3 separate regions of the Homo sapiens genome follow, and regions 1 and 2 are each linked to region 3. Evidence: fine-mapped expression QTL. A gene starts in region 3. Each other region holds a variant in brackets. All regions are shown on one strand. Distances are between the middles of the regions. Region 1 has its middle 76 kb from the start of BTLA. Region 2 overlaps BTLA (B and T lymphocyte associated). Region 3 holds the start of CD200 (CD200 molecule).

Region 1 (10,692 bases), 90 kb before region 3:
TGCTTAGAAGATCTCTGAAATACCTTTGGGGTCACTCTCACATTATCTTGGTAAATAGAACCTGAATTCCTTCTGTCAATAATCTCTTTAGCAAATGGTCGATTGGCCAAACCCTTAATATTCTCTCCTGAACACACCTTTTTATTCTGTACATGGCCGTGCTGAGAATTTTCCAAATCTTTTCTTTCTGCTTCCCTTTTAATTATAAATTCCTTCTTTAAACTATTTTTCTTTTTTATTCATTTTACTGTAAGCAGCCAAAAGAAGTCATGTGGCACTTTGAATGCTTCAATGCTTAGATATTTCTTCTGTCAGGTACCGTAGTTCATTGTTCTGGGAGTCAGATGCGCTACCACTGGGCCACAAGATCACATAGTTCATTATCCTTAAGTTCTGTCTTCCACAAAGTCCTAAAACACGGACATAAATTCCACCAATTTCTTTGCAACTGTATAACAAGGAAGGTCTTTGCTCCATTTTCCAATACCTTGTTCCTTACTTTCATCTGAGATCTAATTGGAGTGGCTTTGCTGTCTACAGGTCTACCGACATTCTGATCATGTCCAATTATGTAATTCCTAAGAAGATTTCGGCTCTCCCTATAGTGCTCGTCTTCTTCTGAGCCCTCACCAGAGTTGCCCTTAACACTCCACTCACAGCAATCTAGGCTGTTTCTAGCCTGCTTCTCCAAATTATTTCAGCCTCTCCCTATTACCCAGTTCCAAAGCCACTTCCACATTTTCAGACTTTTTTTTGTAAAAACAGCCCCACTTTTCAGTACCAATTTCTTAGTCTGTTTCATGCTGCTCTAGCAGAATACTAAAGGCTAGGCAATTTACGATGAATAAAAATGTATTTCTCATAGTTCTGGAGGCTGACAAGTCTAAGACTGAGGGGCTAAAATCTTGTGACGGCTTTCTTAATGCATTATCACGTGGTGGAAGGTAGAAAGGCAAGAGAGCATTCATGAGAGAGTGGGAAGAGGGCAGAACTGATCCTTTTATCAAAAGCCCACTCCCATGATAACTAGCTCACTCAGCAATATTAATCCACCGCCGAGGGCAAAGCCCTCATGACCTAATCACTTTTTAAACGACCCATCTCTCAACAGTGTTGCATTAGGAATTAACTTTCCAACACTTGAATTTTGGGGCTCACATTTAAACCAAAGTAGTAACCTGAACTGTTCTAAACTAGAAGATCTGTCAGGGGACATAGGGTACCAAGTTAGCAGAATTGAAAATATATTTAAAAAAATTTGGCCGGGTGTGGTGGCTCACGCCTGTAATCCCAGCACTTTGGGAGGCCGAGGTGGGTGGATCATGAGGTCAGGAGATAGAGACCATCCTGGCTAACACCGTGAAACCCCATCTGTACTAAACAAAATACAAAAAATTAGCCGGGCGCCTGTAGTCCCAGCTACTCGGGAGGCTGAGGCAGGAGAATGGCGTGAATGCAGGAGGTGGAGGTGCGCTCCAGCCTAGGCAGCAGAGTGAGACTCTGTATCAAAAAAAAAAAAAAAAATTAAAATTAATGGATTATATATTTTGACTTAATGTAAAGAAATTTAGGAATTGCTGTTATTGACTCCATGGAAATTTTCTATGATTTATTTCTGAATTTGATTAATTATTATTTTTGTTTCCCTCACCTATAATTGCATTATTTCCTAACTCCATTCCTACCCTGACTTTGGAGTGCTTTACAAATCCTGGGGATCTTTAAGAAATTTGATGCCCTCTGCTAAGATTTGGATATAGTTTGTTTGTCCCCTTCAAGTCTCATGTTGAAATTTGATCCCCAACATTGGAGGTGGGGCCTGGTAGAAGGTGTTTGGATCATGGAGGTGGATCCCTTGTGAATGGCTTAGTGCCATTCTTGTGAAAGTGAGTGAGTTCTTATTCTTAGTTTCTGGAAAAACTGGCTGTTGAAAGGAGCCTGGCACCTCCTCCTCTTTCTTGCTTCCTCTCTCTCATATTATGCCTTCTCTACTTCTCCTTCTCCCCCAAAGAGAAGCTTTCAGAGGCCCTCACCAGGTGCAGATGCTGATACCATGCTTGATACTGATACCATGCTTCTTGTACAACCTGCAGAACTGTGAGCCAAGTAACCCTCTTTTCTTTATTAATCGCCCAGCCTCAGGTATTCCTTTATAGCAACACAAATGAACTAAGACACCGTCTTATTCTTATTACTAGGTAATCTCATTTTATTTTATTTTCTACCCATTTCTCTGGTATGCTAACATCCATGAGGGTATTGCATGGGCTTTCATTCATTTATTGTTTTTGGCATTCAGTAGTAGCATTCAGTGTTTCACTTCTGCAAAATTAGTGTCTCAATTTTTTTGATGATTTTTTTCTTTGATAAGTTCTTTCTGTCAATTTTTTTTTTTGAAATTTCTTGGTATCTCACTGGGTCTTCTAAATTAATTTTCTTTTTCTTTCATGTTTTGCTCAGTTTTAATCTCTTCTTTCTTCTATCCAGATATTTCTTAGGTTTTATCTTTCTTTTAATTCATTCTTCTTTTATTTTTATTTCTTTTTGTTTTTATCATACTTTTAATTTCCAACAGTTTTTTGTCTTTCTTCATGGCCTCCACTGTTTATTTTATATAAATGAAAACTCTTCAAGTTTCTTTACAGAAACTAACTAGAATTTTGTCTGTTCTTAAGTTTTCTTTCTTTTTTTTTAATCATTCTTTCTCCTAAGTTAAGTGATTAGAGGCTTTTCTTCTTTTTGTTTTTAGCTGTATCTTTCTTTCATGTTACCGTATTTCCTCAAATAGTTGGTAGTAATGCATGACACTTGGCTGCTCTGGAAAGGTAGGTGGGCTTATTAACTGATAGTCTTCACATTACAGAAATAAAAGGGAGCAGGCCAAGTATGTTTCAAGACCCCCAGTGCCCACATGTTGAGGTCTTTGCTCTGGAAAAATTGATGTCCGATCACTCTGCCTTAGGTAATCTCAGATAATTCATTCAATTTCTTTGTAAAAGAACACTTTGATTTTTTAAAATTTTAATTTTATTTTTATGTTTTTACATAGGATACAGTTATCTGACTGTCCATGTTTCTACATGTGGTTGGAAAAGTTGGGGAATGTAGTATGAGCTCAATTGTCCTGGATTCAGAGTTTCATTTAGACAACTTCAGAGTTTGAATTCTGGGCCTCTCCAGAGTTCTGCCTCAAAATTCATTGCATTCCTCTCTTCTAGAGCCATCTCTCTTCTAGGCCACGTTTTCTTCATCCTGTTACATCATTTACTCCTTTATTTACTTTTTATCTGTCATAACTTTTTAAAAACTTTCATTTTTTTTTAATGTGCTTGTCTTTTCTCCTTATTTGGTTGCATATTTATAATACTTTAAGCTATTTTATTATTTCAGTGGAAACTCAGGGATTATGAAAGATAAGCATGTATGGCAAGTCTTTCATCTTGAAATAGAAGCCTATTATTAAATTTTTCTAAAGCCAGAATATTTGGAAAATATTAGTACAACAGTTCATGAATACAAGATAAATCTATCAGTTATTTCAAAAGTTGGGCAAAGTGTTATGTTTTGAGGCATCTGGTTAACATAAAATATATTTTAAAATTTATTCATTTGTCATCAGATACAAATATTTCATTAAATATTGTAATATGCCAGCTCAGAGAAAGATTTTTTTATCCTGTTTGGCAAGTAGATTGCTTGGTTCACCTGTCAAACTGCGTCATCAGAGACTCCACTCTTTCTATTTATTTTCTTTGCTATACTTAGCTGTTCTGCAGGAAATTACCTTCATGTGATGACTGCCTTCAAGTACAGTTTCAAGAAAGCTATTCCAGACCAGAAATACCAGAAAGCCTCATGGACCAGATTAAAATGCTTGAATTACATGGTTTATTAAATCAACTTAAAAACACACAGCAAGAAACAAGTGGAAAGAGTTAAGTTAACATACTTAAGTTAGAAAAGTCCAAAAGAGAAGCTAAAAAAAGAAAGATTGCATTATTTTCAGACAATTTAATGCAACAGAAAATAATCCTAGGTATGATAATAGAGCCCTAGGATAACACTGTATTGTGGTTTAAGCAAATCACTAATATTCATAATAATGACCAGAAATGGAAATGAAAATATATGATTGTATTCTTTAGGTTTGCAAAAAGGCAAAACAGGTTTATAATTTATTTTAGGAAGAATTCCATTCAATACGCTTTTTAAAAATCTAGGTGACTAAAAGTTTGACTTTTTCATGAGTACAGACTAGGATTTATTTTTCAGCTCTGTCACTCACTGTGTGACACTGCATAATCTAAATCATATATCTGAGCTGTCATTTCTTCAACTAGGAAATGGTAAGGGTAATACATTTCTGAAATAGTTATCATGACAATTCAATAAATTTATTCATGTATGATGCTTAGGATAATATTAGTTGCTATTATTAATATTACTAAAAATGTTTTTCTTGAGTTTTCCTAAATTCATTGTGTGTATAATTTTAATGGTTACAAAATATTTTGTCATACAGTTTTAATTTAAACTACTAAATCAATCTCAATCAGATACTGGCAGGAGTTTTTGTTTTTCAGAAATGGATAACATTAATCTGAAATTTATATGAAAATGTAAAAGTTTAGAAATGGGCAAGGCAAGCCTGAGGAAGAAGAAGAAAAAAAACTAGAGGACTTGTACTAAACATAAAGATCTGTTAAAAACCATAGTTAATTATACTCTTATATATATTTAGTAGTTAAGACAGTGTGGCTCAAATATAGATTAAAATTACCAATGGTAGAGAATAGAGAGTTCAGAAGCAGATTCATCTGATTTATGAAAAATATGATATAGCGGTGCAGTGAGAAATGGATGGGACCATTGGATATTCACATGGAAAAAGCACATATCAACTTCTTCCTCACAAAAATAAATTTCAGAACAATTACATATCAATGTGAAAGATAAACAAATAAGGCTTTTAGAATCATCAATGCTATATATGTGAATTGTCAGGCCTCTGAGCCCAAGCCAAGCCATCGCATCCCCTGTGACTTGCACGTATATGCCCAGATGGCCTGAAGTAACTGAAGAATCACAAAAGAAGTGAATATGCCCTGCCCCACCTTAACTGATGACATTCCACCACAAAAGAAGTGTAAATGGCCGGTCCTTGCCTTAAGTGATGACATTACCTTGTGAAAGTCCTTTCCCTGGCTCATCCTGGCTCAAAAAGCACCCCCACTGAGCACCTTGCGACTCCCCACTCCTGCCCACCAGAGAACAAACCCTCTTTGACTGTAATTTTCCTTTACCTACCCAAATCCTATAAAACGGCCCCACCCCTATCTCCCTTCGCTGACTCTCTTTTCGGACTCAGCCCACCTGCACCCAGGTGAAATAAACAGCCATGTTGCTCACACAAAGCCTGTTTGGTGGTCTCTTCACACAGACGCGCATGAAATTTGGTGCCGTGACTCGGATCGGGGGACCTCCCTTGGGAGATCAATCCCCCGTCCTCCTGCTCTTTGCTCCGTGAGAAAGATCCACCTACGACCTCAGGTCCTGAGATCGACCAGCCCAAGAAACATCTCACCAATTTCAAATCCGGTAAGCGGCCTCTTTTTACTCTCTTCTCCAACTTCCCTCACTATCCCTCAACCTCTTTCTCCTTTCAATCTTGGCGCTACACTTCAATCTCTCCCTTCTCTTAATTTCAATTCCTTTCATTTTCTGGTAGAGACAAAAGAGACACGTTTTATCCGTGGACCCAAAACTCCGGCGCCGGTCACAGACTGGGAAGGCAGCCTTCCCTTGGTGTTTAATCATTGCAGGGATGCCTCTCTGATTATACAC[C/T]CACGTTTCAAGGGTGTCAGAACACGCAGGGACGCCTGCCTTGGTCCTTCACCCTTAACGGCAAGTCCCGCTTTTCTGGGGAAGGGGCACGTACCTCAACCCCTTCTCTCCTTGTCTCTACCCCTTCTCTGCTTTCCTGGGGCAGGGGCAAGTACCCCTCAACCCCTTCTCCTTCACCCTTAGCGGCAAGTCCTGCTTTCCTAGGGGGCAAGAACCCCCCAATCGCTTATTTCCGCACCCCAACCTCTTATCTCTGTGCTCCAATCCCTTATTTCTGCACCCCAACCTCTTATCTCTGTGCCCCAATCCCTTATTTCCACACCCCAACCTCATATCTCTGCGCCCCATCCCTTATTTCTGTGCCCTGACCTCTTATCTCTGTGCTCCAACCCCTTTTCCCACTTTTCTGGAAGGTAAGAACCCCCGAACCCCTTCCCTCCATTTCTCTACTCTCTTTTCTCTAGGCTTCCTTCCTTCACTATGGGCAAACTTCCACCCTCCATTCCTCCTTCTACTCCCTTGGCCTGTGTTCTCAAAAACTTAAAACCTCTTCAACTCATACCTGACCTAAAACCTAAATGCCTTATTTTCTTCTGCAATGCCACTTGACCCCAGTACAAACTCGACAGTAGTTCCAAATAGCCAGAAAATGGCACTTTGAATTTTTCCACCCTGCAAGATCTAAATAATTCTTGTCGTAAAATAGGCAAATGGTCTGAGGTGCCTGACGTCCAGGCATTCTTTTACACATCAGTCCCATCCTAGTCTCTGTGCCCAGTGCAACTCGTCCCAAATCTTCCTTCTTTCCCTCCCGCCTGTCCGCTCAGTACCAACCCCAAGTGTTGCTGAGTCTTTCTAATCTTCCTTTTCTACAGACCCATCTGACCTCTCCCTTCCTCCCCAGCCTGCTCCTCGCCAGGCTGAGCTAGGTCTCAATTCTTCCTCAGCCTCTGCTCCTCCACCCTATAATCTTTTTATCACCTCCCCTCCTCACACCTGGTCTGACTTACAGTTTCGTTCCGTGACTAGCCCTCCCCCACCTGCCCAGCAATTTACTCTTAAAAAGGTGGCTGGAGCCAAAGGCATAGTCAAGATTAATGCTCCTTTTTCTTTATCCCAAATCAGATAGCGTTTAGGCTCTTTTTCATCAAATATAAAAATCCAGCCCAGTTCATGACTTGTTTGGCAGCAACCCTGAGACACTTTACAGTCCTAGACCCTAAAAGGCAAAAGACCGTCTTATTCTCAAAATACATTTTATTACCCAATCTGCTCCTGACACTAAAACTCCAAAAATTAAATTCCGGCCCTCAAACCCCACAACAAGATTTAATTAACCTCGCCTTCAAGGCGTACAATAATAGAAAAAAGTTGCAATGTTCCTTGCCTCCACTGTGAGACAAACCCCAGCCACATCTCCAGCACACAAGAACTTCCAAACACCTGAACCGCAGTGGCCAGGCGTTCCTCCAGAACCTCCTCCCCCAGGAGCTTGCTACACGTGCCGGAAATCTGGCCACTGGGCCAAGGAATGCCCGCAGCCCAGGATTCCTCCTAAGCCGCGTCCCATCTGTGTGGGACCCCACTGAAAATCGGACTGTTCAACTCACCTGGCAGCCACTCCCAGAGGCCCTGGAACTCTGGCCCAAGGCTCTCTGACTGACTCCTTCCCAGATCTTCTCGGCTTAGTGGCTGAAGACTGACACTGCCCGATCGCCTCGTGAGCCCCCTAGACCATCACGGATGCCGAGCTTCGGGTAACTCTCACAGTGGAAGGTAAGCCCGTCCCCTTCTTAATCAATACGGAGGCTACTCACTCCCCATTACCTTCTTTTCAAGGGCCTGTTTCCCTTGCCTCCATAACTGTTGTGGGTATTGACGGCCAGGCTTCTAAACCTCTTAAAACTCCCCAACTCTGGTGCCAACTTAGACAATACTCTTTTAAGCACTCCTTTTTAGTTATCCCCACCTGCCCAGTTCCCTTATTAGGCTGAGACACTTTAACTAAATTATCTGCTTCCCTGACTATCCTGGACTACAGCTATATCTCATTGCCGCCCTTCTTCCCAATCCAAAGCCTCCTTTGCGTCCTCCTCTTCTATCCCCCCACCTTAACCCACAAGTATAAGATACCTCTACTCCCTCCTTGGCGACCAATCATGCACCCCTTACCATCTCATTAAAACCTAATCACCCTTACCCCACTCAACGCCAATATCCCATCCCGCAGCACGCTTTAAAAAGATTAAAGCCTGTTATCACTCGCCTGCTACAGTATGGCCTTTTAAAGCCTATAAACTCTCCTTACAATTCCCCCATTTTACCTGTCCTAAAACCAGACAACCCTTACAAGTTAGTTCAGGATCTGCGCCTTATCAACCAAATTGTTTTGCCTATCCACCCCATGCTGCCAAACCCATATACTCTCCTATCCTCAATACCTGCCTCTACAACCCATTATTCTGTTCTAGATCTCAAACATGCTTTCTTTACTATTCCTTTGCACCTTTAATCCCAGCCTCTCTTCGCTTTCACTTGGACTGACCCTGACACCCATCAAGCTCAGCAAATTACCTAGGCTGTACTGCCGCAAAGCTTCACAGACAGCCCCCATTACTTCAATCAAGCCCAAATTTCTTCCTCATCTGTTACCTATCTCGGCATAATTCTCATAAAAACATACGTGCTCTCCCTGCCAATCGTGTCCGACTGATCTCTCAAACCCCAGCACCTTCTACAAAACAACAACTCCTTTCCTTCCTAGGCATGGTTAGCGTGGTCAGAATTCTTACACAAGAGCCAGGACCACACTCTGTAGCCTTTCTGTCCAAACAACTTGACCTTACTGTTTTAGCCTAGCCCTCATGTCTGCGTGCAGCGGCTGCCGCTGCTTTAATACTTTTAGAGGCCCTCAAAATCACAAACTATGCTCAACTCACTCTCTACAGTTCTCATAACTTCCAAAATCTATTTTCTTCCTCATACCTGACACATATACTTTCTGCTTCCCGGCTCCTTCAGCTGTACTCACTCCTTGTTGAGTCTCCCACAATTACCGTTGTTCCTGGCCCAGACTTCAATCTGGCCTCCCACATTATTCCTGATACCACACCTGACCCCCATGACTATCTCTCTGATCCACCTGACATTCACCCCATTTCCCCATATTTCCTTCTTTCCTGTTCCTCACCCCGATCACGCTTGATTTATTGATGGTGGTTCCACCAGGCCTAATCGCCACACACCAGCAAAGGCAGGCTATGCTATAGTACAAGCCACTAGCCTGCCTCTCAGAACCTCTCATTTCCTTTCCATCGTGGAAATCTATCCTCAAGGAAATAATTTCTCAGTGTTCCATCTGCTGTTCTACTATTCCTCAGGGATTATTCAGGCCCCCTCCCTTCCTTACACATCAAGCTCGAGGATTTGCCCCCACCCAGGACTGGCAAATTAGCTTTATTCAACATGTCCCAAGTCAGGAAACTAAAATTTTAATCTCTCCCACTCTAGGTTCCCACGCCGCCCCTAATCCCGCTCGAAGCAGCCCTGAGAAACATCGCCCATTCTCTCTCCATATCACCCCCCAAAAATTTTTGCCACCCCAACACTTCAACACTATTTTGTTTTATTTTTCTTATTAATATAAGACGGCAGGAATGTCAGGCCTCTGAGCCCAAGCCAAGCCATCGCATCCCCTGTGACTTGCACGTATATGCCCAGATGGCCTGAAGTAACTGAAGAATCACAAAAGAAGTGAATATGCTCTGCCCCACCTTAACTGATGACCTTCCACCACAAAAGAAGTGTAAATGGCCGGTCCTTGCTTTAAGTGATGACATTACCTTGTGAAAGTCCTTTTCCTGGCTCATCCTGGCTCAAAAATCACCCCCACTGAGCACCTTGCAACCCCCACTCCTGCCTGCCAGAGAACAAACCCTCTTTGACTGTAATTTTCCTTTACCTACCCAAATCCTATAAAACGGCCCCACCCTTATCTCCCTTCGCTGACTCTCTTTTCGGACTCAGCCCGCCTGCACCCAGGTGAAATAAACAGCCACGTTGCTCACACAAAGCCTGTTTGGTGGTCTCTTCACACGGACGCGCATGAAATGAATAAGTTTGGTTTTTTTAATAGTAGAGTTTAATAGGAGTATTAAAAGAGTAGAATAACCCCAGACAAATGTTTTTTGAGAGATTAAAAGGTGTCAGGGATGGGAAGCCAGATACTCCTGGGTGACAAGTTCATGGAAATAATTAATGTGATTTTGTTACTGGGAAGAGCAGAGTCCTCTGTTCTTAGGCTTACTTGTAAGAAAGAATCCTACCAAGAGACCACTTAGCCCAAAAAGAGAATTTATTGAAGCAAAATTAGAGCACAGAGTTTATTTAGACAGACAGTACACTCCAAAAGATGAGGCACAGTGGGCTACTAACAGAGAATGAGCCAGCAGTAGCCTCAAGAGTTCTGCATTGGGTTTTTATGACGGATTTTTTCTTGAAGTTCTCATCTCTGTGTTAAGTCTCCACCTTTTTCCTTCATCTAGTTTTTCCTGCTGCTGCCTTAAGTCCTTGCCTTTTCCCTGCCTAGTTCCTGCCTCAGATTTGTGGGATTCTGTCTATTAGTTGGCGTGCATGTGTGGACCTTGTGTTGGACACAAATTCTACCTAATGGCTACATTGCTCATTACCATCACCCCAGGAAGGCTGTATGGCAGTTAAATCTGTACTTTTTATGCCTGCATATCTCTTAGGAATTTCTCCTTCACCCTCTTTCCCTCTTTATTAGCATGTAGCTAGCTACATTCCGACAGGTTAATTGCAGAGTGGGTGATTACTGGGTGTCTTAAG
Region 2 (10,692 bases), 160 kb before region 3:
TACCTTATATTGCATAGGAACCCACATATTATCAAGAGGAAAAGCCTATGAGTGGCTCATCAGAAGCTTCTGATTTTTCAGGTTTTATTTTTTTATTTTTTTGAGACAAGAGTTTTGCTCTCGTCACCCAGGCTGGAGTGCAATGGCGTGATCCCGCCTCACTGCATCCTCTGCCTCCCGGGTTCAATCGATTCTTCTTCCTCCCGGGTTCAATTTATTCTCCTGCCTCAGCGTCCCTAGTAGCTGGGATTACAGGCACCTTCCACCACGCACAGCTAATTTTTGTATTTTTAGTAGAGATGTTGGATAACCCCAATTATCCAACATCTGTCCTACCCAACTGAGCACTGCAACACTCTACTGCACTCAGTTTGGGAAGAACGAGCTATCTATTCATCATCAGTGTGGCAGCCTGAGCATTTTCGCAAGAAGTAGTGATAGATTTGTACTTAACTATTTATAACATCTACTCAGTTCTCTTTTCTTGCCATCAACCTGTTTTTTAAGAAAGTCAGCCAAGCTATGGATGCAATGCATGTTGGGCAGGCTGGTCTGGAGCTCCTGACCTCAAGTGATCCACCTGCCTCAGCCTCCCAAAGTGCTAGGATTACAGGTATGAGCCACCATGCCCAGTGATTTTTCAGGTTTTAAATATTCTGTCTTATTATTCCCTACAAGCACACATTTATCAGTTTGGCTACTGCAATTTTAAATTAGAAAATCTGGCCACTGAGGTTCTATGGAAAGTCTATCTATAATTTTAAACTGTGTAGTTTGGAATATGTCTCTATGATGCCAGGATGCCACACAACCAAGTGCAAAGTAAAAAAGTCCTTAGTTACTCAAACATCTTTATGTTTGTAAGTATCTAGTATTAAGTCAACTAGGTGCTTAGATGGTTGACTGAATTTTCCACCTTCCATCAGATGCCTACAGTCACATAGCTACAACTGGAGTCAAATATTATTAAATAGATTTCTTCCCCATTTGAAGGATACATAAACTACTCTCTATGAAATTAAGAACAATGAGTTTCAGTGCTAAACCACATTGATGGTGGGGTAAGACCTTTATTTCTCCCAATGTGCAACCTAGCATTTGCAAAAGTGAACTTGGCTGTTAGAACTGGGTTAATTTACTGGCTCTGCCACTTACTGTATGGCATTGATTAAGTCTCTTCTCTTCTCTTTAGTTTCCTCATTTGTACAATACAGGTAATAATTGTACCTAAATTATGGGGCTGCTGTGAAGACTGTAGATGCAATAATATGGGTAAAGTGCCTCGCATAGTAAGTGCACGTATTTAAAGCTCAGTAAATGTTAGTGGTATTTTTCCTAAATTATTTTCACCATGCAACCTCTATGTAATTAAATGAGAATTATGTTTTAACATTATTATTTAAAATAGTTGAGTTTTTAAAGTTAAAAATAAAATAAATAAGTACAATATATTTTGCAATATATTTAGCCCAAAATATAGTGAATCAAATTATTCAGAAAATGAAATATGGCTGGGAGCCATGGCCCTAGCCTTTAGTCTCAGCACTTTGGGAAGCCAAGACGGGCAGATCACCTGAGGTCAGGAGTTTAAGACCAGACTGGTCAACATGGTGAAACCCCGTCTCTACTAAAAATATAAAAATTTGCTGGGTGTGTTGGGAGGTGCCTGTAGTCCCAGCTACTCGGGAGGCCGAGACAGGAGAATAGCTTGAACCCAGGAGGCAGAGGTTGCAGTGAGCTGAGATCACACCACTGCACTCAAAAAAAAAAGGGAAAGACTTGAGTGAAGTACTGGTCAGATATATACCAGTTGATATAATGGATTGCAGCAGCAGTTGCATTAAATTAAAGCTATAGGTTAAGAGAAGGAACATTTGGTGAAATTTGTTCTCCCAGGCAGAGCTGATGGCTCCATTTCTTAAAACCACATTAAATACCTTATATCTTGGGGATTTCCTGTGATTTACTTAATTGCTGAGTTCTTTACAGTAATACATTTTCAGTGTTTAAAGATAGCCTTTGAAGATTTTTTCCCCCTACTTCAAAGCAATGTGAGATCCGTGTCCTTGTTCCTAGGAGTGAGGCTGCATATATAATAAGGCTGGAAAAAATGTAATGTTCTCTACAAACTTCCTGTTTAAGGTCCTTCTTTATTACAAAAGTATGCTTGCTTACTTTTTGTGTTTCTCTAAAAAATTAGAGAAACTTGCCCCTCAGTGTGTGGCATACAGTTTCTGTCCTGATAGAAGTAATAAAAATGTCAATATCTTCCCTTCATGGGCAGATCATGCTGGCAAGATCTAGACTGCAAGTGGAAGTGTCTCTGTCCATTGCCTGCCCTGTCATCCTGGACCATTTGTCTGAGGCTGCCCTAGACCCTAGTTCAGTTGAGGATCAACCAAGGATTCCACTTTTAGGCAGGCAGGAACACTGCAGTTAATGTCTGGGTATCACCAACACCATATATGATGCAGAATAAAGGCAGTTGGAACTGTTTGATTGATTACTGGTTATTGTGATTTTTAAAAAAAGCAATCCTAGTCTGGTTCAGTAAGGGAAAGACACCTGTATTCTGGCTCTTTTGAGAATACAGTGGTTAGGGCTATGTCTCCATTTTGGTCTGGCTTGTGTCATTTTTTTCCCTTTATTATGATGGTCCAGTATGGTCCATGGACCAGCTTTTAAACACCGTGTTCCACATCCCACACAGATTGTTTTGCTCTACTACAAACTGGCCATATCTTTGGGTCAAAAAATATCATTCCTTGAAGTTCAGGTTTTGTAGCACAGTATCTTTATAAGGCATATTTCTATGGCTTCAGCTATTTGTTCTTATTGAAATGTGCATATGGAGGAATGCTAGAGATAGAGCTCTGTCTTCTGCCAAGTGCCTATGTATTGTTACAACAATGCCTGCCATATATTAAATAAATGTTTAGGAATGCATTCTGTGGTTACAGGACTTCTTGAATTAAAGCATGAAAAGATTAACCTTGTGCTCATTGCAGCCTTGAATATACTTTTCCTATCACAGAGAAGTTTTTAAATTTCTTGCTTCCTCTGTCCTACTACCAAAGTTTCCTCTATTGTAAAGTTGACGTCAAAACTATTTATCTTGCCTCATTGGGACTTTCCTACTTAATTTCCATTATTTGTGAGTTTCATCTTTATGTAGAGTTCAGAATTGTTAAAAGAAAAATATTTACAGGCATTTGTAATCAGGTCCAAAAAATAATCATTTTCTTTTTTCCTTGGAGAAGCTGTGTGGTATAGTGGCTAAGATCAGGGACTCTAAAGCCAGACTCCATGGATTAGTATCCTATGTCTGCCATTTAATGGTTTTGTGACTATAAAATCTCTGGTTCTCAGTTTTCTCATCTAAAAAAATGGGAGAATAATCTTATAAGGTTGTTGTGACTATTAAGTGAATTAATTCTGTAAAACACTTAGAATAGTGCATGGCATGCCATTCAGTGCTGTGTATATTTAGCTAATTTTTTTTCTTTTAGTCCAACATTTCATTAGTTTAATAGTCCTGTTAAAGTAACATTGGGTGACAATTGGGAATCAACCACAAATAAAAATTTGGAGTTCACAAAAGTCTTCTATAAATTACTCTTGATATTATTATCTACTCTTTTTTTTCTTTATTTCTTCTAAAAAAGGAAAACAGGATACATGTGCAGAAATGTACAGGTTTGTTACATAGGTATACGTGTGCCATGATGGTTTGCTTAACCTATTGACCCATCCTCTAAGTTCCCTCTCCTCTCCCCCTACTCCCCAACAGGCTCTGGTTTGTGTTATTCCCCTCTCTGTGTCCATATATTCTCATTTTCAACTTCCACTTATGAGTGAGAACATGCAGTGTTTGGTTTTCTGTTCCTGTGTTAGTTTGCTTAGGATGATGGCTTCCAGCTTCATCCATGTCCCTGCAAAGGGCATGATCTCATTCTTTTTTATGGCTGCATAGTATTCCACGGTGTATATGTACCATATTTTCTTTTTCCAGTCTATCATTGATGGGCATTTGGGTTGGTTCCGTGTCTTTGCTATTGTAAATAGTGCTGCAATAAACATACGTGTGCATGTGTCTTTATAGTAGAATGATTTATATTCCTTTGAGTATATACCCAGTAACGGGATTGCTGGGTCAAATGGTATTTCTGGTTCTAGATCGAGGAATTGCCATACTGTCTTCCACAATGGTTGAACTAATTTACACTCCCACCAACCGTGTAAAAGCATTCCTAATTCTCCACAGACTTGCCAGCACCTATTGTTTCCTGACTTTTTAATAATCACCATTCTGACTGGCGTGAGATGTTATCTCCTTGTGGTTTTGATTTACATTTCTCTGACCATCAGTGATGTTGAGCTTTTATTCTTATGTTTGTTGGTGGCATAAATGTCTTCTTTTTTTTTTTGAGATAGAGTGTCGCTCTGTC[G/A]CCCAGGCTGGAGTGCAGTGGCGCAATCTCCGCTCACTGCAAGCTCTGCCTCCCGGGCTCATGCCATTCTCCTAACTCAGCCTCCCGAGTAGCTGGGACTACAGGCGGCTGCCACCACGCCTGGCTAATTTTTTGTATTTTTAGTACAGAAGGTTTCACCGTGTTAGTCAGGATGGTCTTGATCTCCTGACCTCATGATCCACCTGTCTCGGCCTCCCAAAGTGCTGGGATTACAGGCGTGAGCCACCGCGCCCAGCCAGTGTCTTCTTTTGAGAAGTGTCTGTTTAGGCTGGGTGTAGTGGCTCTCGCCTGTAATCCCAGCACTTCAGGAAGCTGAGGAGGGCGGGTCATTTGAGGTCAGGAGTTCAAGAGCAGTCTGGCCAGCATAGTGAAACCCTGTCTGTACTAAAAATACAAAAATTAGCTGGGCGTGGTGGGACACGCCTGTAAGACCAGCTACTTGGGAGGCTGAGGCAGAATTGCTTGAACCCAGGAGACTGAAGTTGCAGTGAGCCAGGTTGCACCACTGCACTCCAGCTGGGTAACAGAGTGAGACTCTGTCTCCAAAAAAAAACAGAGAGAACTGTGTGTTCATATCCTTTGCCCACTTTTTGATGCGGTTGTTTGTTTTTTTCTTGTAAACTTATTTAAGTTTCTTGTAAATTCTGGATATTAGGCCTTTTTCAGATGGGTAGATTGCAAAAATTTTCTCCCATTCTGTAGGTTGCCTTTTTGCTCTGATGAGAGTTTCTTTTGCTGTGCAGAAGTTCTTCAGTTTGTTGCAATTGCTTTTGGCATTTATGTCATGAAGACTTTGTGAGAAAAATGCCAAAAGCATTATCTACTCTTATCCTTGGTCACCAAGAAAAGCTAATAGTGCTTGAGAATCATGCGCTTGAGTTGTATTGTGTCAGTGAATTGTATCATATGCGATTTGCTTCACTTTTCTAATACTCTCCATTCTCTTACCTCAAAATAAGCTCAATATTTTGTACCTTTCTGGTATACTCTCATGGTTATGGACCTGATTTACATGTTTATCTCAATGGAAGAAGTGGCTTGTGTGCAGCATGTGTCTGTGTGTATGCATGCAGAGGTGTCATACAATTTGAGATTCACTTAGAACAGAGTCCAGAAGAGTGTTAGATCAGTCCCAGGAAAACATCAAGTTTAGCTGGCAGAGCTCTTTAATTTCTTTTTTCTGCCTTCTTGATAACCATGTTCATCTTATAAGCACAACCTGGAACTCACACACATCACAAATGGCCTATTATCCAGTATTTGGCTACAAGGGAGGCTGGGGCATTGAGATTTTTATCTGGGGGGTTATGGCCCCACTTCATTTTCCTCTATAATATTAGAAGATGAGAATTAATATTGGAAGACATTTAGCAGATTCTGTCCACATAAGTATTGTTTAGTATCTTCAAGGGCTTTGAAAATGCCAGTGAATCTCAGTGTGATGTCTGTGGTAGAATGTATTAGAGATGTGAGGAAGTATCTGGGAAGAAAGTAGAGATGGACTTTCCCTTTCCAATCATAATACATAAGCCACACTTAATCTGAACATCACAAGTAACAATCCTTCCACTGAAGTCAATATTTAGAAATACTCATGTTGGTTTCTGATCAAATGCCAGAGGCACTCACTGATGCTACTGTCAACAGCTTCTCAGGTATGCTGTCTACATTTGCTGCCCTATGTTTCTTCCTGAAATCCCTGTGACAAAGGTGGAAAATTTAGCCTCTCTGAAGGACAGGGCCTATGTGTAACAGGCAATCAAAGTCTCTCTAAATCATTGTTCTTTAGGACTCATTAAGTTGACTAGAAGCTTTTACTATTCAAGGGCGATAATTACATGTTGACCAACTAAAACCACCAGAAACTCATCCTTGTTACACAGAGTAGACAGGGCTCTAAGGAGTGCAATGCATATGAATCCTCTGGCCTAGAGAAGCAAAGTCAGTGACCAGTAGGGTAGATCTGCAAGGGGACATTTGTGACTTGGCAGAGATGTAATGAAGAAGTCCTGAAAGCAAGCTTAGAAAATTATCAAAGGACAAAGTTTTTTTCAATATTCTAGTTTTGACCAAGGCAAGCCTTGCTGGTTAATATATTTCTGTAGAGTTTCCTCTCCCACATAAAAGAAGAGCATGCTTATATTGGATGTGCTGCCTTTCTTCTCTCTATTATATAGATATATTTTTGCCTGGTGTATATACTAGTTATTATGCACCACTGCTGATCCCTAGAATGGTTGTTGGGGGTAATTTTTCACAGCAGAGTCTTCTGTGTTTCCATCTTGTCTTTACCATTCATAGGCTTTACACCTCTGGACAATGACTCAACTTCTGTGTGATTTCCCTAAATTCATCCTATCAGAAAACATAATAATATCTGGTACTTTATGTTGTTGTTATGTGCCAAGCATAGTGCTAAGAATATTTCCTATATGTTCTCATTTGCTTTCACAACAACCCTACTGGATAAGAGCTTGTGCTTTGGAGTTAGCCACACCTGGGTTAAAGTCCTAGCCTTGACTCTTCCTCCTACCAGCTGGTGATCTTGGGCAAGTGGCTTATATTCTCTAATACCCAGTTTCCTCAACTTAAAAAAATAAAGGCCATAATAGTAATTCCCTCATAAAATCATTGTGAGGGTCAAATGAAACAATACATGTTTGGTATCTAAAAGTGCCTACCTCATAATAAGAACTTTGAAAATATTAGTCATATTCTTTTTTTCCTCGTGTTAAGATGGATCTAGGTTGGGTCTACAGTATATAGATAATGTGAGGTGGAGTGTACCTGTGGGCAAGTGGCAAAGAATGTGTAGCAGTGATTCTAGAGGTGATCTCCTAAATGTAACTTAAACTTTCCATTGGGCATCTGACCTCATGACCTCTAAGGTTCTCTTCTTGTTCTACTCTTAAATATCTCAAGGAGAGGAAATGACATGGGGACTTTGTAAGCTTTGCTAAATGTCGGAAAAAGCAATGACAAATACTAGAATGACTGATTTTAGACAAAACAAGTTCAGAATTATTTCAAACATGATAAAATCAAGAGATACAGAGCTTAAAGTCTTCAGTGGCTCAATACAACTGCATTGAAGAGATCAGTCTTCAAATTTACTTGCCAAATAGTCATACTACACTAACAATGAGAAATTCTAACTGTAGAAGAAATTGCTTTAAAGTGTGCTAATACCATATGAAAGTAAACTTAAAGAAAAATTTCATAAATGAATATAAGAAGATATGTTTTTATAAGAAGGGGATTTTTAAGAGGAAATAATAATAAAAGATGATTGTGAAAATGCTCTCAATTTTCTTGTTTCATGGTTGCTTTTTTTTTTTAAATAATGGGCATAAATGTAGATTTATGCCCTGTGTATTCTTGGCATTAATACTTTCCAGTTCCATTTTTGTGAAGGAAATTTTACATTGTGTGTGTGTGTGTGTGTGTGTGTGTGTGTGTGTGTTTACCCAGGGAGAAAATGGCTCTTCTTGTCTAAAGAGCAATATCAGGTGATATCCACAGAGAATAAGTTAAATCTACTATTGCATACTACATCCTTGTCTGTGATCTGTATTGTCTATGATCTGTATCTTTAGTGTTGTTTTTCAGGAAAGACATATGTAAATAAACTTTCATTTTACAGAAGGGACTGAGGGCCAGTCAGTTTTCACTGTACTCGTGAGAACAATCACAGGGTTTTCCTTAAAGTAACAATAGTCACTTTTACAAAAGAAGCTCTGATTTTAACATATGTTTGTGTGTGTCATACTTACTTAATTTTCTCCAGGTATTCCTAGTACTTCTGAGAATATCTGACTTATGGAGTGGTTTATTTACCACAGAGTTAAAGTAATACCTTTAATAGACATTACATAATACATTAAATGAATACTTTCTATATGAGGTGGAACTCCCCCACCCTAACCTCATGTCACCACATTTCTGATTTTGTGAGTGTATGTGAGCTAGTTTATGATGGGAAAGTATGCTACCTGGGTTTTCTGATGTCGTCCGTGTGATTTCCCAAGGTATGCAAGTCAATGTCCTCCCAAGATCCTTGAAGTATGGTTCCATGGCTGCTATTGCTGTGTGTGGATTTGCCCTGACTATGTACAAACCACTGCCTTATGGGATCCCTAAACTCTAATTTCAAGGGAAGATTTGAGAGACAGATTATTTCCCTTCCCTGGTGGCCATCATCTCTCCCCTCCTCTCTACCATTCCAGCCTTCTAAAGTAAGGCAGAACATACCATCTGGATGCCTTTTTGCTCCTGAGTGTAAAGACTTCATTCCTTCTGTAGCCTCCCCAGCATGCGTCTGAAGTTTTGGTTTGCTTGTTGTTTGTCTGTGATAGTATTTTCTGATAGAAGCTAAAATCCTGGTTGATGTCACAGAAAATTATTGGTTTATTATACCGTTAGTAATCATTTTAGTTTCTCAAAAAATCATTTGTTTAATTTCTATGTTAAACTCTGACACTTTCTTAGCTCAAGTTAAGGCAATCTGCATTCATTACAGTCATTCATTTATTTGAATGGTTGCAACCACTTTGAAGTTTCCATAAATTTGTAAGAATTTTTCAATGGAGACATAGTGAAACTCAGGTGAGATTTTCCTCATGATAATGGTTATAATCAAAACATATGGTATTTAAAAATAAGAAATAATGATATTTTATAAAATATTCATAATCATAACCCTCTTTTTTTTTAAATGGCTGATTGGTTTCAAAAATTACCTACTCTCTTCAGCTCAGCAACTACACTTGCTCAGCTGGGAGTTACGAGACTATACAGTTGTTTGTGGCTGGCACTCCTTTCTGATCAGCTGATCTGTGTAGCTGGATGGCCATGGAGTGTCACTTGTTAAATATTTTTAATATCCACCCCTGAGTGGACATAAATCAGGCCTTTTCAAACTGAATACTTGTAAAGTCTAGCTTTTCTTTGGTAGTTATAACTTAACCACTGTAAGGTATGTTGAGCTGCATATGTTCTTCACCTCAGTGCCTTTTAGCCCACCTCTCTAAGGGCTTAGCTGTCTCTGCTGTGCAACCAGTACTACATAGAAAGGTAACACACCATCAAGGAAGTAGCAGACTAGATAGAAGACAGAAACATGAACACATATGTAGTTATAAAGAGTGATGCATGTCGGCTGGGTGCGGTGGCTCATGCCTGTAATACTAGCACTTTGGGAGGCCAAGGCGGGTGGATCACAAGGTCAGGAGTTCAAGACCAGCCTGGCCAACATGGTGAATCCCCATCTCTACTAAAAATATAAAAATTCCCCGGGCGCAGTGGCAGGTGCCTGTATTCCCAGCTGCTCCAGAGGCTGAGGCAGCAGAATTGCTTGAACCCGGTGGGTGGAGGTTGCAGTGAGCTAAGATCGCGCCACTGCACTCCAGCCTGGGTGACAGAGCGAGACTCCGTCTCAACAACAACAACAAAAAAGGAGTGATGCATCTCACACAAAATAGCATCAGACATTTGCTAGGGAGTGGGGATATGAGGGTATGGTAAGTTTGCATAAACTTACTGGGCTAGGCCCAGTGCGGTGGCTCACGCCTGTAATCCCAGCACTTTGGGAGCCCGAGGCGGGCGGATCACGAGGTCAGGAGATCGAGACCATCCTGGTTAACCGGGTAAAACCCCGTCTCTACTAAAAATACAAAAAATTAGCCGGGCGTGGTGGTGGGCACCTATAGTCCCAGCTACTCAGGAGGCTGAGGCAGGAGAATGGCGTGAACCCGGGAGGCTTGCAGTGAGCGGAGATTGCGCCACTGCACTCCAGCCTGGGCGACAGAGCGAGACTCTGTCTCAAAAAAAAAAAAAAAAAGAAAAAAGAAAACGGAAACTGTGACAGTGATGTGGAGAATTGAGGTGGAGGGAGGGAAACAAGGCCAAGTTTGGAATGTAGAAGACCATTTGGTACGCTGTGACAATAATCCACATGAAACAGAATGAGATCCAAATTAAGGCAGTGTCATGGAAACAAATATGGAAGACATTTTCCATCCTGAATCAATTGAACTTCATGGCTGATGGAATGGGACGGTGACAAGGAAGGAGACTAAGATGGCTCCCCAGGTTCTGGCTAATGTGATTAGGTAGATGATGGTATTATACTGTGATAATGAGAGGAGGACCAAATTTGCCTGGGGGTTGGCTTGGAGGAAGAAAGAGATTTATCTTCCCCCATGAAGCCTTTCCTGATTGACCC
Region 3 (9,094 bases):
TCACTTGTATTTATGTAAGGTCTTACTTTTATGAGCCTGATTACAGTCATCTTGCCATACAGATCCTCCTCTTCGGAAGCATTTTCTGCTTAGGTCTTTTGGAACTTTTAGTGCTCCAAGAAGATTCAAGCCTCTTCCTCCAGTGCCAAAGGGGTCCCATCTCCCTTTGTCTGCCATGCCACAGCTTCCAGATCTTGTCTGAACACACCCATCTGCTTTCCAGTTTGAGAGAAAATGACTACTTCCCAAATATACCCACCATATACCCCACACCTTGAGACACTGTTTCCAGCATGCTTACTACCTGTCAACACCCCTCACCCCCCGCCACTCCCCCAGCTATCAGTCTTTCATTCTCTCTTGTCAGTGAAAAAAATTATAGCACTAAAGCAGGCTTGACAGTTTTGAAACTACTCTTCTTTTTCAGACTGAGTTAAATTCCTGAGGTTGGGACATTGTCTGCTTGTTTCATTAGAAACAGTCTCTTATTTGGCTCTGTCTATTCTTTTATGGTATTTAGCAGTATGATCATAGTCTTCCATAAAGTAGTGGTCTCTTGGTGCCTGTCTCATTGCCCCCCAAGAACCTCAATATCCACTGAATCCTGTTGCTTTAGCGGGATGTCCTGACCACTTTTTCCTTAATGAACCCATCACGGGCATCCCTTTCTGAAGTTGTTTGTATGTTCTTATCGGCTCCTGTTTAGCCCCATCTGTTGCTACTATAATTTGAAGCTTATTTCTAGAATATTGGCCCATAATCACTTAAATGACCTTGCTTTAGGGTCAGGATCATTGCTAAAGGGTGGTGTTCTACCTGTGGGAATCCCATCCCCTCATTCTCGGTGTTTGCCTTAACTAAGCCCTATTTTTGCCATTCCTTTTAGATACAATGACTTCCCTGCTGGAATTCATTTTCCTTATCACTCCAAGCTGGGTCTTTCTGTTTGCCTTTCAATTTCTCTGGGATTTTTATTGTCTTGTGATGGCCTTCTTCCTGTGGGCTCAGGAGCAGCGGGTCGGGAATGGAGTTCTCAAGGATCTAAATCTCTCCTCCTTTACCTGCCACAAGGATTTCTCTTCCTTTTCCTGTCCAATGGGAGCCACTCAATTTTAATATCCTCCTACTCAATGGATTTGTTAATTTTAATTCCAGTCAATACATGCCCTTTTCTTTCCTTATGAAACAGCCACGACCTAAACTTAATGAGGGAAATTTCAAGAGGAAGTACCAAACCAATTCCAAATAACAGGTGTTTCACAAACATTAATCTTATATAATAAGCTTCATTTTTCCTCTAGCAAGAGAAGTTACTAACCAAGTCCCTTCATAGGTAGGGGTAGAAAATTACCTGGTAATCATTGATGGTGGTCTTTCCTAGGAGTGTAGCTGTAAGGAGAGGGCCCCCAATTGTCCTGGTCAGAGTCTGTGGTTTGAGATCAATGAGATGATAAAAATTAGAGCCAATATTGTCTCAGCTCTCTTGGGGCCAACTTGTACCCTGGAGGTGGTTGTGTGTGTTGAGCACCAGAGCTGTCATGGTCTGGGTGAAGACCCAAGATCATGTTAGAGACTGGCCTGCTGGAAAAGGGCTCTTCTTCAGCATTCACTCTAACTGCCAGAGACAAGGAGTCTCCATCACTATCTCCATCACAGTATTCCTGATGGATCTTTCAGGATAGATGTCCTGGAAGGAATGATGTCTCGCCGCCCTGTGGCCTATCCCAAGTGCTGCCACATACCTGAGTGTCTTCTTGTCTTCAGCTAGAGAGAACCAATCACTTAGACTCTCATCCTGGACCCCATGCAGTGGCATCATAGTACACAGTAATACTGATCTTTGTGATGTAAGTTGCTTTTTCCTTACATCTCTAAGGCTACAGAGAATTCAAGATTATATCATCTGAAGGTGCCATTAGGACAAATTATTCTTTGCAGATATATTTTATTATTCGATACCCAAGCATACCATAAGCATGCTATCCCTTCCTTGTGACTTCTCTTCCTGTCTTCATAGGTCTAAGACTAATAACATAGTCACTGCTCTTTGAGAAACCCAAGATGGTTCAGCTGCCTGAATACATACAGCCTACAAAGATCTGCTCACCCTGCCCATCCACTGCTGGGTATTATACTCACAAAGGCTTTGGTTTTGAAGTGAAAAAAAATATATAACTCGATAATTTTCTCAGTATTACTGAGACTGTTCCATCCTATCTAATTATCTAGGAAAGTCAGAAAAAATCAGGCCAAATATTTCCTCAGGCTCCATTGCCAGTGCCCACCCAACACATTTTGTTTTATTTTCAGCTAAGGCAATTGTGGAGACAGATACTGGCATTCCAATTCTATGTGATATTTTTTAAACCATTAGGCTTCTCTGACGTGGAAATCCAGGCTCTACCAGAGGCCATGATGAAGAATGCAGAATGGACAAGCTCTCATAGAGAAAATCTGTGTTTTAGGACAAGAGAGAAAGCAGATACATACCAAACCATATATTGTGGACTGGGAGCCAGCAATGTTAAGAAACAAAACACAGTGATTGAGGCAAAGGAAATCAGAAGGAAAGCCTTACTCTTAAATAGATACGTATTTTTATTTTACAGGTTTTTTTTTTCCTCGAGTCTGTGCAGAATAACTGAAAATACGACCAATCTGAAAACAACAGTATTTATATGTTTACAGGGAGGTGACCGGGGCTAAAACAAATACTAGATTTGTGAGCAAAAGAAATCATTTTACCTCTCTGAGACTCCGGAAAAGTAATAGTACCAATCTAATGGTTAAAAAGACTAAATGAAGTAGTATATAAAGCTCCTAGAATACTGCCAGTAGAAATAAGCACTAAATAAATGTTGCTCTTATCTCACATAGTTATTATGAGAATTAGGCAATTAAAGCACTTAGTATAGAGCCTAGGTTATAGTAAATGCCAATACGTGTTAGGTAGCTAAAAAAATTAATCGATCAAATCATATAGGGGGAACTACAGTCCTGAAAACAAAGAAGCCCACTTATAACCCTTGCCATGCAGTCCAGGGTTCACAAAAACCTGGGTCTTACCAGACAGCTGCCCACCTGGTAGCTATATTGCCCCTATTCATGCCTCTTCCTCAGCAAGTTTCTATGTCCAAATCCACATTACCCCACATGTAGTCACAAGGACTTGGAAATATCAGCCTTTCCGCCTGTTTATGTGTAAAACGAGGTAATAATTCATTTTTAGAAGGATAGTTACAAAGAAGATTAACAGCATCTAGCTTGCAGTAGACCGTAGCTCACAGACCACCATTCTCCTTTGTTAAGAAAGACAGTGAAATCATTGGCTATGTGGTCTTGCCAACAAACCATACATGAAAAAATTATCTTGAGGCATTCACTGTATTTGGATTCTTATACCAATACCATTGTATTTGGATTTCATATACCAATGGGATATATGAAAACCTTCTCCGTTTTTTGTCTTGTAAGCTGGTTCCGAATAAACAAAATGTCTGTTTCTCTAGATACCCGGGGTTAACCCTTCAAAGCATTATGATCACAGAGCATTTCAGCTCTCTCAAGTGTAGCTTCAGCTTTAACTGATCCTTCATGGCTTCCCCCAGGCAAGGGCTAGGAGGGAGAAAGGGGCTGCATAACAAAGAGGAGACGCAGGAGCTCTCCCGGAGAAAGCGAGCCTGGAAATCTGTATCTCCGCCGCAGCTTTTGGTGCCAATATGGAACCAATACAGCATTTCTCTTTCCCTTTTGGGGGCAGTTTAAAATAGGCTGTGCCTCCCCAGTTTTGGGAGCTGGAGCCAGTGAGCCGAGCCGAGCCTGCCCGGAGGATGCGCCAGCTTCGTCAGCGCGGATCAAGAGCCCCCGGAGCCCCGGCCTGGTGCATCTTTTTTTCAGGCAATTGGAATGGAGAATCTGGACGCCAGCAGCTGCCTGTAAACCACCCTTTGGAAGGCAAAATCCGTTTCTCAGCAAGAGAAAGCGCTTAGAGAAAAGCGCTGCCATCAACACCGCTGATCTAGTCCCCGGACCAGATTGTGGCAAGAGCCGAAGCTCCGCGCCTTCCACTCGCCGCCCGCCCCAGGGCCACCGGCTCAACATCGCCTGCCCTGCGCCCTCCTTCCCAAGCCCCGGCCCCGCTCACCAGCCTCTCCATCCTTGCTCCTGGAGGCGCGCGCGAGGTGGCTGACTGCGGATGTGCGCCTGGAGCTCTGCTAGGCAGGCGGGAGGAGCGTCACCTGTGCCCCTGCCGCACCTCCCGCCTCTTCCTCCTCGCTAGCCCCCTTCTCCCACTCCGTTTTCCCCACGCCCTCACAGGAGCGGAGGCTGTCTGTGTGGGGGGAATTAAATGATGTTTATATTCAGCTTTGTCTATTTTCAGACATTTTTCCCTTTTCAAAGGTGACCGCTGGGGAAACTGACAAAGTGTTTGGAAAAAAAAAATCATTTTTTTTTTTCCATTTTCCTGCTACCTGGACTGAGAAAGGAAATGAGGTGGGAGGTTGTGGAGATCAGTTGTTGACCTGTTAGCTCTTGATGTAGTGGCAAAGGATTCAAGCTGAATTTAACCAATGGACTTTTTTTTTTTTTTAAAGAAAAAACTTACATTTATTATTTTTAAATCCAGATTCAAATTATATATTTAAGCAATTCCGTAATGATTTCACCTTTCATGATGTGATCAATTCTTTGGTGAAGAGTTTCCTTCCACTTGCATTAATGATGAGGATTCTTTTTTCCCTTCTCCTTCTCCTTCTTCTCCTTCTTCTTCTTCTTGAGACGGAGTCTCGCTCTGTGGTCCAGGCTGGAGTGCAGTGGCGCTATCTTGGCTCACTACAAGCTCCGCCTCCCGGGTTCCCGCCATTCTCCTGCCTCAGCCTCCCGAGTAGCTGGGACTACAGACGCCCGCCACCATGCCCGGCTAATTTTTTGTATTTTTAGTAGAGACGGGGTTTCACCATGTTAGCCAGGATGGTCTCGGTCTCTTGACCTCGTGATCCGCCCGCCTCGGCCTCCCAAAATGCTGGGATTACAGGCGTGAGCCACTGCGCCCGGCCCTCCTCCTCCTCTTCCTCCTTCTCCGTCTCCTTCTCCTTCTCCTTCTCCTCCTTCTCCTTCTCCTCCTCCCCCTCCCCCTCCTCCTCCTCCTTCGTCTTCTTCTTCTTGTTCCAGAGTTCTTGGCTCTTAAAAAAAAAAAAAAAAGGACAAAGAAATCATCAAGTGTTCACCTCCTGAAGGCTTTTGTGTTTTACTACTACCACCCTCTCATAAGGAGCTGGGACAAAGCTTTGGGGTTTTGTTTTTGCTTCTTTTTACAGACAAAGTCTCGCTCTGTTGTCCAAGCTGGAATGCAGTGGTGCGATCATAACTCACTCCTGGGCTCAAGGGATCCTCTCACCTCAGCCTCTAGAGTAGCTAGAATGATAGTTGTGCAGCCACTATGTCCAGCTTTTTTTTTTTTTCCAGACACGGGGTCTTGTGTTGCCCAGGCTGGCCTGAAATTCCTAGCCTCAAATGCTCCTTCTACCTTTGCCTCCCAAAGCAGTGGGATTACAGGCATGAACCACTGCACCTGACCTATTCTCCCACTTCTTTTTTTGGGGGGGGGGCGGTGGGAGACGGGGGCGGAGTCTCGCTCTGTCGTCCAGGCTGGAGTGCAGTGGCGCGATCTCGGCTCACTGCAAGCTCTGCCTCCTGGGTTCACGCCATTCTCCTGCCTCAGCCTCCGAAGTAGCTGGGACTACAGGCGCCCGCCACCACGCCCGGCTAATTTTTTTTGTATTTTTAGTAGAGACGGGGTTTCACCGTTTAGCCAGGATGGTCTCGATCTCCTGACTTCATGATTCGCCCGTCTCAGCCTCCCAAAGTTGTGGGAATTACAGGCGTGAGCCACCGCGCCCGGCCCCTATTCTCCTACTTCTAACACCATAGACTAGGCTCACCTGATTTTGAATTTTATATGAATGGCATCGTAGCATATGTCTTCACTTGTTTCTGGGTTTTTTACTCAACAGTAGATTTTAAAAATCCATCCATGTTATTGCCTGTAGTGTGGCTTATTCATTCTCACTGATGTATAGTATCCTATTCTGTAAATACTGTCTATTACAATTTATTTATCTATTCTTCTATTAATTAACATTTCTTTGTTTTTCAAATTGGAAGCATTTTTCATAGTGGTGCTATAAACATTCTTATACCTGTCTTTTCACAAGCATATGTACATCATTCTATTACATTTATTTTTCCCATATATTTTCCTATCACTTTATTTTTAACCTTCCTCTATTAGAGAAATATTAACTGCACACTTGGAAAAAAAATTCTCCCACCTTGGCCTCCCAAACTACTGGGATTACAGTTGTGAGCCACTGCACCCGGCCTTAACCTATTTGTATGTTGTAATTACTGATATAATAGGACTTTTAATTTTTTTATATTTTATTTTAGTATATTTTCTTCTGTCTTATCTTTCATTAAGCTAAATATTATCTTGCTACATTAAGAGTTATATTTTATTATTCTGCTGTTTTCTCCTAACTTACTAAGGACAATGCATATATTTATTTTTTTAAGTCAATTTCTTAAATTTCCCAACACGTATACCTTAGCATAATTCTCCTCACCTCTCATAATCTTATTTTCTAATTTTTTAAAAATAAAATCTTACATTTATTATTTTAAAATCCAGATTCAAATTATATAGTTAAGCAACCAGTTTCATAATGATTGAGGCCAGGAGTTCAAGATCATACTGGGCAACATAGTGAGACCCCTGTCTCTACCAAAAAATAAAAATAAATTACCTGAACATGGTGGCACATGTCTGTAGTCCCAGCTAATCAGGAGGCTGAGATGGGAGGATTGCTTAAGCTCGGGAGGTTGAGGCTGAAGTGAGCCATGATGGAGACACTGCACTCTAGCCTGGGTGATGCAGTGAAACACTATTTCAAAAAAAAAAATAGCTTAAAAACAACATTTTTAGGTTAAAAGAGACTTGGGACACAGAAGAGTGAACAAAAGGGGAAAAACTCCCAGCCATAATGAAGCATAAACATTGTATTAAAAACCCTTTGAAAAAGAAGAAATTTGCTTACATAATTTTTTTTAAAGAAAGGTCTGCAGGAAAAAGAAAAAAATGACATTTAAAATTATTGGACAGATTTAAAGGAGCATTCAGAATTAATATATCACCTTAACTATATCAGATGTCAATATTGAGCAAAAGAAGCAAACAAGGAACTCAACAAAATGAGAAGAAAAAAAATAATAAAACTAAAGGCAGAAATCAATAAAAACGAACACAAATAGAATAAATATAATTTTTTTAGAGATTAATTGATCAAACGGGTGGCATGTAATACTCAGAAAATTATTTCTGTAATACTCAGAAAATTATTACTGTAATACAGAGTAACAATATAGAATGAAAAGGGAGAATTAATACTGATGCAACAAATAGCAAAAATAACAAAACAATATTGTGAACAGTAATATGAAAACTTACACAAAATGAATAAATTTCTGAAAGTGGCAAATTGGCCATAAAAATTTAAAAATTAAATAGGCCAATAAATTAGTAAGCAAGTAAATCAAAATCAAAGACTTGTTTTGCAAAATAAATAAATAAATAACAGACCTAGAGGATTGTTGAGGAATAGATCTATCTTATTCATGTTCAAAAGGGAGAATTATAAAATTACTAAGATCTTTCTTTGAGGCTAGTGTTATTTTAATTTTAAAGCCAGGAAAGGATAATCCAAGAAAATAAAATTATAGTCCTCTTTTACTTATAAATATAAAGCAGAACAATTTCCAAAATGGCTTAACATTAGAAAACTGTCAGTATAATTTATTATATTAGTAAATTGCTATGAAAAATTCATGATTATCTCAACAAGTACCAATAAATTTTTTCTTAAGTTCAACAACATATTTATCATAAAAGCAAAGGAGATAAGAATAAGAAAATATTTCCTAACCTTATGCTTAGTGATCAAACTGCAGTAAATGTCATATTCAACTGTAAGGAAATTTTAGACATGGTCTTTTAAATCGGAAACAAGAAAAAGATAACTGTTATTGCAGGTATTAAATATAAAAAGAGGTGTCGATTGGAAAGAAAGAAGCAAAACTGTCATTAGTTGTAAGAGAGAGAATCAACTTCATGAAAAACAATCAAAATCAACAGAAAAACTTAAATACAGAGTTTAGCACAGTTTCCAAATATTGGTTAACTTAAAAAATCCAAAAATGTTCCTAAACCACTAATAATAACCAGCTAGAAATTTTTTAAAATATCATTAATTATAGTGAATAAATTAAAAGTACCAAAGAATTAACCTAGCAAAAATTACACCTACATTGAGAAAATTGTAAAGCCTTCCTAAAAGACATTTAGAAAGACTTGAATAAATGGATAATATATTTATGGCTGAAGGAAATTCCACTATAAAGACATCAATGCCCCAAACTCAAACTTATTAACAACTTATAGTTTGACTTAACATTGTTAAATCCATCTACTTTTTATCCACAAAAAGTGGACTTTTGGTTTTCCATTAAATACTTCTGTTCCCCTAACAGTATAACTGAAAAATGTAATAGAGTGATGCCAAACAGGGAGAAGTAATCTATATCTAGTATGTAAAGGATCTAAGATATAAAAAATTTCTGGCTGGGTGCGGTGGCTCACCCCTGTAATTCCAGCACTTTGGGAGGCCGAGGCAGGAGGATCATTTGAGGTCAGGAGTTCGAAACCAGCTTAGCCAACATGGTGAAACCCTGTCTCTACTAAAAATACAAAAAGGGGCGCTGTGGCTCACGCCTGTAATCCCAGCACTTTGGGAGGCCAAAGCAGGTGGATCACCTGAGGTCAGGAGTTCAAGACCAGCCTCAAAATATGATGAAACCCCTTCTCTACTAAAAAATAACAAAAATTAGCTGGGCGTGGTGGTGGACACCTGCAATCCTAGTGACTTGGGAGGCTGAGGCAGGAGAATCACTTGAACCCAGGAGGCGGAGGTTGCAGTGAGCCGAGATCTCACCATTGCACTCCAGCCTGGGCAACAAGAGTGAAACTCCGTCTCAAAAA

Evidence for each region. PIP is the estimated chance that this variant, and not a neighbour inherited with it, causes the effect.
Region 1: its variant is the best candidate, but not a certain one, in a credible set for the expression of CD200 in whole blood (TOPMed, PIP 0.59).
Region 2: its variant is the best candidate, but not a certain one, in a credible set for the expression of CD200 in thyroid (GTEx, PIP 0.86).

Annotation. Positions count from the first base shown.
Region 1 is chr3:112,417,672-112,428,363 of GRCh38, reverse strand. No RefSeq gene overlaps it. Among named protein-coding and RNA genes, the nearest start is that of BTLA, 76 kb to the left of the region's middle. RefSeq lists enhancers at 4,760-5,612, 9,029-9,882, 9,883-10,692. The variant C/T (reference allele first, on the strand shown) is at 5,845.
Region 2 is chr3:112,487,845-112,498,536 of GRCh38, reverse strand. The region is part of intron 1 of BTLA (B and T lymphocyte associated); the gene reads left to right. Among named protein-coding and RNA genes, the nearest start is that of BTLA, 6.3 kb to the left of the region's middle. RefSeq lists an enhancer at 482-601 and a silencer at 6,364-6,413. The variant G/A (reference allele first, on the strand shown) is at 4,449.
Region 3 is chr3:112,328,275-112,337,368 of GRCh38, reverse strand. CD200 (CD200 molecule) reads right to left here and starts at 4,213. Exons shown (of 6, transcript NM_005944.7): 1 at 4,145-4,213. The coding sequence starts at 4,156. It overlaps LOC105374042 (a long non-coding RNA gene), which reads right to left. Exons shown (of 5, transcript NR_147411.1): 4 at 7,983-8,023; 5 at 4,615-5,183. RefSeq lists enhancers at 1,376-2,135, 2,632-3,588, 3,589-4,546.